Regions from separate parts of the Homo sapiens genome. Here region 2 is linked to region 1. The links come from fine-mapping of genetic effects on gene expression. A gene starts in region 1. The other region holds a variant in brackets. All regions are shown on one strand. Distances are between the middles of the regions.

Region 1 (5,381 bases):
ATGAGCCAAGATTGAGCCACCACACTCCAGCCTGGGCAACAGAGTGAGACTCCATCTCAAATAAACAAACAAAAAAAGAATCCTAGAATTGAAGCTTTTTTTTTTTAGATGGAATTTCACTCTTGTTGCCCAGGCTGGAGTGCAATGGTGCAATCTCAGCTCACCGCAACCTCCACCTCCTGGGTTCAAGCAGTCCTCCTGTCTCAGCCTCCCAAGTAGCGGGGATTACAGGCATGTGCCACCACACCCAGCTAATTTTGTATTTTTAGTAGAGACGGGGTTTCTCTAGACTGGTCTCCAACTCCCGACCTCAAGTGATCCGCCCTCCTTGGCCTCCCAAAGTGCTGGGATTACAGGCGTGAGCCACCGCGCCCGGCTGCTCATTAACTCTGATTGGGTGACATGCCCATGCCTGTGGTCTGCAGAGCGATCAGTCTCTCCAAACCGCATGGACTGAGAGCAGAGAAGAGCCACTGCCCATGGAAAACTAGGGTGCTGAGACCAAAAGAAAGGGAATGCTTTGGAAAATAAAACAACAGGTGTCACATCCAAGGAAAAGTGGATGCTATCCAACCTGTAGTTAGAACTGACATTCATTATACTCCTATCATAGGCCAGGCACTGTGCTAAGTGCTTTACATATGTTATTGTATTCAATATGGCTGGTAATAGTAATACATGAAAAGTTAGTCAACATCATTAGGCATCAGGGAAATGTTATGTTAAAAATCACAATAAGGTACCATTTTATGAGGACTGAAAATATCAAAATTTGGCAAGGATGTGGAACAACCGAAACGCTCATCTATTGCTAAGAGTGTGAAAGGGTGCAGTCGCTTTGGAAAAACAATTCAGCAGTGTCTAAAGTTAAGCTACCATATGATTCAGCAATTTGACCCAGATACTTTCCCCAACAGGGATAAAAATTATGTCCACACAAGGTCTTATACAAGAATGTTCATAACGCCCTATGCATAATAGCCAAAAACTATAAGCAAAGCAAATGGCCATTAATAGAATGGATGACCGCTTGTGGTATGGTCATACAATGGAATACTATTCAACAATTAAAAGCAACTAATTACTGATACAACAGCATGGATGAATCTCATTGATATTGAAGTCAGACGCAAAGCAGAAGAAAGACACAAGGCAATGCATATTGTAGGTCTCCATTTACATGAAGTTCAAAAAAAGACAAAACTAATCTATGGTCATTGAAATTTGAAAATAGTTGGCCGGGCGCGGTGGCTCACGCCTGTAATCCTAGCACGTTGGGAGGCCGAGGCGGGCAGATCACAAGGTGAGGAGTTCGAGACCAGCTTGGCCAATATGGTGAAACCCCGTCTCTACTAAAAATACAAAAATTAGCCAGGCGTGGTGGCAGACACCTGTAATCCCAGCTACTCAGGAGGCTGAGGCAGGAGAATTGCTTGAACCCGGGAGGCAGAGGACACAGTGAGCTGAGACTGCACCACTGCACTCCAGCCTGGGTGACAGAGCAAGACTCCGTCTCAAAAAAAAAAAGAGAAAATAGTTGCCTTGGGGTGGTGGTGGATTGTCTGGAAAACTGGCACAAAATAACTTTCTGGAGCAATGAAAATGTTCTAGATCTTGACTGGGTGGTATATACAACTGCTAAATGTCATCAAGTTGCTAAATGACATTTATCAACTGCTAAATGTCACCTAAGTCTGTGGAATTTACTGTATGCAAATTATACCTCAATTTTTAAAAATTACAAAGGACTAACATTAAAGTTTGTGCCACAGTTTAATCGTTCCTCTAATGTTGTGCACTATTTTCCCATTTTTTCACAATCACAAATTATGATACAATGACTATCTTTTGTGCATATGTGAAATTACCAATATTAAGCATTTTGACCCATAAAAATGACAAGTTTGTATAGTCAAACCTAGTAGATATTTAATATTTTGGATTATTCCCATTATCCCCATTTTTAGTTAGGTGACTTGAGAAAAGTTTACAAATTTTTGTTGATACTCATTGCTAAACTGCTTTTTCTACCAATTTTATAAATGTATACTCCTTTTACAAAAGTGTCTTAGGTTGGTGCAAAAGTAATTGCGGTTTTTGCCATTACTTGCAATGGCAAAAGCCGCAACTACTTTTGCACCAACCTATGACTTGAATCCTGTTTTTCAGTTCTTCAAATTTTGATAGACACTTATCTTGCACATCCATATGCACGCTCCTCTCTTCCCAGCACTTTGTACATCTCTCATGGCTCATAACACATTCTTCCATCACGTATGTGTACACATATGGCTGTATAGGAAAACAGCTTCTGGAGGATAAGAACAATTTGTTTTGCGGTTTTTTATTTTTAATAAAATCTCCTAGCTTGGTGCCTTATGCATTTCATTTATTTATTCAACTAACATCTTCCAAATTCACATAAGGGACCAGTTATCTGTGAATGGTGTAACAGGCCTTCAAAAAGTCCACGAAACTAAACATTACCAGTTTCAAATATACCCGACAGGTCTCATTTTAACATTCATGCCCCACGTTTTAAGTTCCCAGATTGCTACCTTCCCATGTTTTTGGTGCTCTAATCTGGAAACAAAAACTCTGAAAATTTAGTTTTGAATGTATTATGTGAGGGCCTTTCCCTGGGCCCTGCTAATAATTCCTTAAAATGCTCCCCAGAACCACATGTTTGGGGACTTAGGATAATCAGTGAAATCTAGGGCAGCCTGTCGGTCTGAGACTTTTCACAGGACTCTGAAGGGCACCGGGGTAATTCCTTTTTAAGGACAGCAGTGCAGTGAAAATGCAAATCGTGACAGCAACAAGCTCCTTCCAGTTCCGGAGTGCCCGCAGGCTCCTCCCGGTCGCCGCCGTCGCCTAGCGAATGGGGTGGGGGCTCGCACGGTCCCCGCATCTCGGAGCGCCACGGCGGGCTCCTGCCGCCCCGCCCCACCCCACCCCCGGCGCGCGTCCCGAGCCCCGCCCGCGCGCCCGGCAGGAAAGGGCGGTCCTGCGCTGTGGCCCACGCTCGCTCCCGCTGTCGGACTCTGGGCCTGGACCGCGCGTGGCCGGCGCCAAAAGCGAGAGGCATGAGCGCGCGCCCGGGCCAGTGAACTGCTCGGGGATGGACTGCGGCTCGGTCGGCGGCCAGAGGACCCAGCGCCTGCCCGGCCGCCAGCGGCTTCTCTTCTTGCCCGTGGGCCTCAGCGGAAGACCGGGCGGCAGCGAAACCTCAGCACGCCGCTGCCTCTCTGCGCTCTCCGACGGTCTGGGGGCGCTGCGCCCTCGCGCCCCGGCGGCCCGCGGCGGCGTGTCACGTGCCTCACCGCTGCTCCTCCTCCTGCTAGTGCCCTCCCCGCGCTTGGCCGCCGCAGCCCCGCGCCGGCAGCTCGGGGACTGGGAGCGCTCGCGCCTCGGGTATGCCGCACCCCCGGCCGGGCGCAGCAGCGCGTGGAGGTGCTCACCGGGCGTCGCCGCTGCCGCCGGCGCCCTTCCCCAGTACCACGGCCCGGCGCCTGCACTCGTTTCCTGCAGGAGAGGTGAGGCCCGGGCGGGAGAGGAGAGGGGGCTCGTCTCGCGGGGTTGGACGGCGGGGCGGGGATCTCAGCTACAGCCTCCCCGAGGAAAGGCCCGGCAGGCCGGAGGGCGGGTCCTCCAAGGCCACCGGCATCTGCCCGGAGCGTGGGTCGAAGGTCCGGGCCCGCCCTGCTCGGCCGCGGTGGCGGGGCTTAGCCCAGAAGAGACGAATTCCTGGGAATCCCGGGCGCTAAAGTTGGAGGGAGGTGCGTGCTGGGGCGGGGAGTTGGTGCCCGCCCACTCCTAGGGTCTGCTTTTGGGCGCCGCCTTCCAGGAGTTCTGTTTGGCAGCGCCCAGCCTGTTGGGCGTTCAAGGGGAAGGGGTGTGTATGTTTGAGCAGCAAAGCTCTGGGAAATGAAGGGATTGCTTTACAGTTTGATTTCAAATTCTGATGGAATCATTAATTCGTGGAGTCCTAGCGTCTGCCCTGTCCCTGGCGCTTTTCTAGATGTGTGAGATATATCAGTCCACAAAATCTTCCCTCTGGAGCTTAATTCTAGCAGAGCAGACGCAGTAAATATGTGTGTGTGGATATACGTATGCATAATTGATGTATATATAATTTATATATACAAATAATTTTTATATATTCGTAATTCGATGCCTGGTATAGAAAAATAGGATAAGGCTTGGGAAGTGGAATGGGTCTCCAGTTGTGAATTTAAATAGGGTGATCAGAATCGATTTCATTGAGAAGGTAGCATTTAATTAGAGTCATGCATCTCTTCAGGACAGTCGCCTACTGAGAAATGAGTCATTAGGCGACTTCTTCCTTGTGTGAATATTGTAGAGTGTGCTTACACAAACCTGGATGCTACAGCCTACTACACACCTAGACTATCAGGTAGAGGCTAGTGCTCCTAGGCTACAAACCTGAACAGCATGTTACCGTACTGAATACTAGAGGCAATCTGAACACAATGGTATTTGCGCATCTAAATGTAGAAAAGGTAGAGTAAAAATATGTATTATAGTCTCATAGACCACTGTCGTGTGTGCCCCTCTGTCCTGGGCTGAAAGGTAGTTGTGGGGCTCATGACTATTTAAAGGAGGTGAGAGAGATCACTGCCCTGGAGATGAGGAAAGTAAATAGAATCAATTTATTAGATAGCATATTGTTGATTAAAGAAAAAAATCATTTCTGATAATCAACAGACTTGGCAAAATTATCACTTTGGGCAGTCTATACATATTCATTAGTAGCCATCACTAACTACACATTTTTCATATTTTCTTCAACAGATAGGCCCACTAAATGTTGACCATATCTATAATTTAAGAATATCATTGGCTGGGGTAAAAACTGATTAGTAGAGCAATAAAGTGAAGGAAACTTTATATACAGAGAGTGGGGAATGAGTAGTGAACTCGGTGTCACTGTCCTTCAGTAATTAGGAGTCGGAGATGAGTTTGGTCTTTATTCTGTATTTTGCCTTTTGTTGCGCTTTTTCTGACAAGCTAGTAATTTCCAATTTGTTTTTCTCTCAATGCAAGAGTATAGGGCAAAAAGAGAGTGTTCTTTCTCACGGATTTGCTGACCAATCGGTAAGGTGGTACTGTTGTTTTAGTGTCAGCTATCTCATTCTTCAGTCATCATAAAAAATGAGTATGGATGCATAAAAACAGAAGAGAGCAGAGACACAGTTAAGGAAGCATGTATGCCCATTAACCAGCCAATGAGCGTTTCCCAACCATTTGTTTGCTTGGTGCCTGAGGTTCTCGGTTGAGCTACTTAAGGATGTCATGAGTAGGAAGTTTGTATTTGGTTTCCTCATCCTGTCCAAGGCTACCTTTGGGCCTCTATTGTA
Region 2 (5,381 bases), 26 kb after region 1:
GCCGGGCATGGTGTCATCTGCCTGTAGCTTCAGCTTCTTGGGAGGCTGAGGCAGGAGGGTCACTTGAGCCCGGGAGTTTGAGGCACAGTGAGCTGTAATCATACCATTGCATGGTGCACTCCTCCTGGGTACCAGATGAGACCATGTCTCTAAAATAAGAAAATAAAATAAAGGGTGTGGGATTTGTTTTTTCAGTAGGCAGGCGTTTCACGGAATATGGGACATCAGTGAGCAATCTAAGTTTCTAGGTTTTCTTTTTTAGGTTTTCTTAAAAAAAGATGTTCCCTCAAGTAACTCTTAATAGAACTAATAGTACTCTCAATTGTTTTTTTCTTACAGGGTCTATATTTACGTGCCTAACAGTAGCTCTGGGATTTTATCGCCTGTGGATCTAATAAAGTGTCTATTTAAAGTGATTTCTACTGTTTTGCCTTAAGAATACCAGATTGTTGGCTGGGTGCGGTGGCTCACACCTGTAATTCCAGCACTTTGGGAGGCTGAGGCAGGTGGATTACCTGAGGTCAGGAGTTCGAGACCAGCCTGGCCAACACGGTGAAACCCCGTCTCTACTAAAAAATTAAAACATTAGGCGGGCGTGGTGGCGGGCGCCTGTAGTCCCAGCTACTCGGGAGGCTAAGGTGTGAACCTGGGAGGCGGAGCTTGTAGTGAGCCGAGATCACGTCACTGCACTCCAGCCTGGGCAACAGAGCGAGACTCCGTCTCAAAAAAAAAAAAAAAACCGGAATACCAGATTGTTGTCCTTTTGTTTTCTTGTTACACATTTGAGCCCAGATTTTGACTTAATGTGTATTATTTATTTTTATGAAAATTGTGGACACATAACCAAGATAAAGAAGTCAGGTATTCCATAGCCATTCCTTATCTCCTTTCTGCTTAGTTGACTTTCTAGCTGAGTGGTGCACAGTGCATGGAAGATTCCACTTAGCCGGACCAGGAAGCTTGGTCTCATCTGTGGTGCACACCAACAGCAAACATTGATGTAATTCTCTACAACTTAATCTTTGGCACATAGAGGATTTGGGGGTCTCCATGTTCAGGGCACAATGGCTTTAATAAGTGCTGGAAAATCACTGAAGCTAAACCAAGAGCACCAGATCCTCTTTACCTAAATAACCAGTCTTTAACATGAGCTAGTCCCTGTACCATAGTATTGTTTCAGCTGTAGTTGGTTGTCATGTTAATAAGACAGCTGCACGTCTACCTTCTTTTCTTTTGATTTCCATTGTCTTGGTAAGTTATTGTTAGGGTTATTTTTAATGTGCCTTCCAGCCAGAAAAATCAGCTGTCTAAAGAAGCATTGCAATTGTAATGGGGACTCTTACCTCTTAGAATGCAAGATTTTCCCTCCTCCCTCCCTCTTCTCCATCTCTTTCCCTCATGATTTGAGAACTGTAATAATCCTCCACTGGTGGCATTACCTACCTAGAAAACCTGCTGATTCTTAGCATGGAACTTTGCTTCAGTTTGCAGGACAAAGTCTGCTTCCTTCCGGTCTTCATTTACTTTTTATACAAGGGATGCAGTCAGCTCTCCATGTATAAGATACCTAGATGATGGATACATATTTCATAAATGAAATTTATGTCATTAATGAATATCCCCTTGCCCACAACCAGCTCAGGCTTTCAAAATTCGAGAATGGTCATGCCACACAGCATTCTAATCTAGATGGATTAATTCTGTTGTTCAAAACATTCTCATACCTGCCTTTATATTGAAAACAAATTCTAGATACAACTGGGGTTATTCTGGAAAAGCACATTCTCACCTTTTTTTTTTTTTTGAGACGGAGTCTCGCACTGTCGCAGGGCTGGAGTGCATTGTCGTGATCTCTGCTCACTGCAACCTCTGCCTCCTGGGTTCAAGCGATTCTCCTGCCTCAGTCTCCTGAGTAGCTGGGATTACAGGTGCCCACCACCACGCCCAGCTAATTTTTGTATTTTTAGTAGAGATGAGGTTTCACCATGTTGGCCAGGCTGGTCTCTAACTCCTGACCTCGTGATTCACCCGCCTTGGTCTCCCAAAGTAGTGGGATTACAGGCGTGAGCCGCTGCGCCTGGCCCATTCTCATCTTATTCAAATTACTGGCACATGGGCAAGAGAGACAATGACATGGATAGAAGCTTTTCTGCCTTTCTCTGCACACACATACAGTGAAGGAACCACAGGCAGATTTTTT[G/T]ATCAGTTTGGTGAATACATTGCTCGTTGTCACTGTTCCAACCACATTGGTAAAAAAAATAGTTACCTTTTGTCCTTTGGATGTCATGTCTAAACTTTGGAAAATATAAGTCATTGCCCTTTTAGAGAATGTTTGTGTAGTCCAAAGATTGTGAGCTCCATATAGTATGAAAATCAAGTACTTTTGCATGAGCAATAGCAGTTTCAAAGTGAAATATTATAATTTAATCTTTTTCAAGTAGATCAAAAATTCTTAACTGATTAATAAAATATTTTATCAATATATCATCCCCCTTTCAGAGAGAAGTCCCCAGAAGAGACAGCACACTTAGCAATTGCCCTCATTATTAAAGGCCTAGGTGAGTGGCATAAAGGGCCATATGCGATTATGTTTCAAGGTAAACATTACCTAACCTTGTGTGGGTTAAAAACAGTGAAGTGTCCTTGTATCCTGATAAAATTTTTTTTTAAATAACATGGTGGGTTGACATTTTTGCATCTGCTATAAGTTTTCTCACATGTCGTTCTTCCTGGTGAGAGCGGGCTGCATCATTCTGGCACTTAATTTGGGTGTTCGATTTTGCTATAGAGTTCTTTGCAGTACAGCATAGCCTCTTCTTGGCCTTGGGAACAGTGAACTCTTCTTTTGATGGTGTGGATTGCATGCATATCTGGAGAGAGGAGGGCTCAGGACTGTGTTCACTTTATTTGGTCAGATGTATTTTATTTGAAAACCATTTGAGCCCAAAATACAAGTGTACCCTTCCCACTTCTGGCTCAAGCACCCGTGAGCCGACTAGACGTAATATTAAAACTTACTGATGCTGGGTGCGGTGGCTCATGCCTATAATCCCAGCACTTTGGGAGGCCAAGGCAGGCAGATCACCTGAGGTCAGGAGTTGGAGACCAGACTGGCCAACATGACGAAATGCTCTCGCTACTAAAAATAGAAAAATTAGCCAGGCGTGGTGGCACACCCCTGTAATCCTAGCTACTCGGGAGGCTGAGACAGGAAAATTGCATGAACCTGGGAGGCAGAGGTTGCAGTGAGCAGAGATTACACCACTGCAACGAGACTCGGGCCCAGACGAGATCTGCCTGGGCGACACAGTGAGACTCTGTCTCAAAATAAATAAATAAGTAAATAGAACCTCCTGAGCTACCCTGGCTTATAAGGATTCAGATTACTTTAGGAAATTAGGCATTAGCACTAGGAGGGGGGAAGATGGCTGGCAAAACTTCTAGCTAGCAACCTATGTCTAGCACATGGGTAACTAACCATAGCGAGATCCTGAACACATATCCTCTAGGTGCAGGTGGAGGGAACGATGTCCAATACCTGAAGCAGAATCTCACATGGACGGAACGTCTGTATTTCCCTCTCCTGCACGAATCACTCATCATTCTTGGAGGGCTTCTCTGCATTCCTCCTTTTCTTCTCTCCCCTCCCCTGCCTTTTGTCTTTTCTAAAGAGTCTGAACTCCGATTTCCATGCTCTCCTGCTACATTAATAAGCAAAACCTGCTTGTGTGTACGGTTCTTTACTGGAAACATGACTTTTTGTTTCTGTATTGGTTTTACTGTCATCCAGTTTTCTAGTTTAATATCTAGCAAAACTAAATCTGAATGTACTCGCTTTTTCCGTTAAGTATGCCAAGCACCTCGGTTGAAAGGCTTGACTCAAACCAGAAGTCTTGCTGGAATTCGTCTCTGAACACTTGAAAAACAGAAACCCTGAGCCGCAACAAACATGCCTCTGTGTGTCGGGATTGCCTTTGTCTCTGCTTCCATGTGGCTTTTCCTTTTGTAGCTATGCTTAGTGACATAATCTTCCCTCTTCTAGCCTTCTCCTTTCAAGCCTGTCTGTTAATTAACCATGTCAGTATTGGCAAGCATTTATCTTCCCCCACCCTAACATGCAATCTTCTAAGAATTTTGCAAAATTCTAAACAAATATAGAGATGGTATATAGAATTCATATCTAGAAAACTTTGATTTTAATGTGAGCTTATCAAATTTGTTCTGGCTTTTTTGGCACTAAGGCAAAAACATGTTAACCAGAAATAATTTATTCTTCATGTATGTAAAATATTTGAGAATGTTTAGCCTTTTATTAGAATTTTATTTGGAAAATATTTATCTTTCTACACATTTTACACTTATGTTCCTTTGCTTATAACCCAATTTCTTAACTTTTTTGTTACTTAAGCAAATATCAATTATGTTTTATTATCTAATAAAGTGTAAGATTCTTACTATCTAAAATATTTAATTCTGTGTGACTAATATACTTTTCTGATCATTCAAATTGAATATGAAAAGCTAGAATAACTGTATTGCAACTGTTAATTCCAGCCAATTGTATAATGATAACACTGGTGAATTTCTAAGTAAATCTAATACTTGAAAATTTGGGTATACATAGAAAATAAATTTTAATATAATGTACAAAGTAACTTTTCATCATTCAAAAGAATTTCTTTAGCATGTTCATGTTATGAGTAATTTTATACAAGCTACTTGTTTGAGGGGAAATGATGAGGTTTAAATACAGGTTTTTAGAAATAGACAATTTTCTTTTTTTTTTTTCTTTTGAGACAAGATACTACTATTGCCTAGGCTGGATGGAGTGCATTGGCGCAGTCACTGCTCATGGCAGCCTCGACCTCCCAGGCTCAAGCGATCCTCCCACCTCAGCCTGGGACCCAAGTAGCTGGGACCACGGGCATGCGCCACCACACCCAGCTAATTTTTTTTCTATTCTTTGCAGAGATGGTGTCTCACTATGTTGCCCAGGCTGGTCTCAAACTTCTAGGCTTAAGCCATCCTCCTGCCTCAGCCTCCCAAGTGCTGGTACTACAGGCATGAGCCACTGCACCTGGCTGAGAAATACACAATTTTAAAAAATATCTGGCCGGGCACGGTTGGTCTTGTCTGTAATCCCAGTACTGTGAGAGGCCAAGGCGGGTGGGTCACTTGAGTCCTGGAGTTCGAGACCAGCCTGGCTAACATGGTGAAACCCTGTCTCTACAGAAAATAGAAAAATTAGCCGGATGTGGTGGCACACACCTGTAGTCCTAGCTACTCAGGAGGCTGAGATGGGAGGATGGCTTGAGCCCAGGAGGTAGAGGCTGCAGTGAGCTGTGGTTGTGCCACTGCACTCCAGCCTGGGTGACAGAGCC

Evidence for each region. PIP is the estimated chance that this variant, and not a neighbour inherited with it, causes the effect.
Region 2: its variant is fine-mapped to the expression of MCUR1 in T cells (TOPMed, PIP 0.95). The same link has a PIP of 0.9 or more in lung.

The regions. Positions count from the first base shown.
Region 1 is chr6:13,812,170-13,817,550 of GRCh38, reverse strand. MCUR1 (mitochondrial calcium uniporter regulator 1) reads left to right here and starts at 2,994. Exons shown (of 9, transcript NM_001031713.4): 1 at 2,994-3,536. The coding sequence starts at 3,122. LOC107986571 (a long non-coding RNA gene) reads right to left here and starts at 3,741. Exons shown (of 2, transcript XR_001743986.3): 1 at 3,462-3,741. RefSeq lists an enhancer at 2,527-2,626 and silencers at 2,787-3,056, 3,137-3,806.
Region 2 is chr6:13,785,823-13,791,203 of GRCh38, reverse strand. It overlaps MCUR1 (mitochondrial calcium uniporter regulator 1), which reads left to right. Exons shown (of 9, transcript NM_001031713.4): 9 at 340-4,647. The coding sequence ends at 395. Among named protein-coding and RNA genes, the nearest start is that of MCUR1, 26 kb to the left of the region's middle. RefSeq lists a silencer at 1,883-2,051 and an enhancer at 2,720-3,552. The variant G/T (reference allele first, on the strand shown) is at 2,201.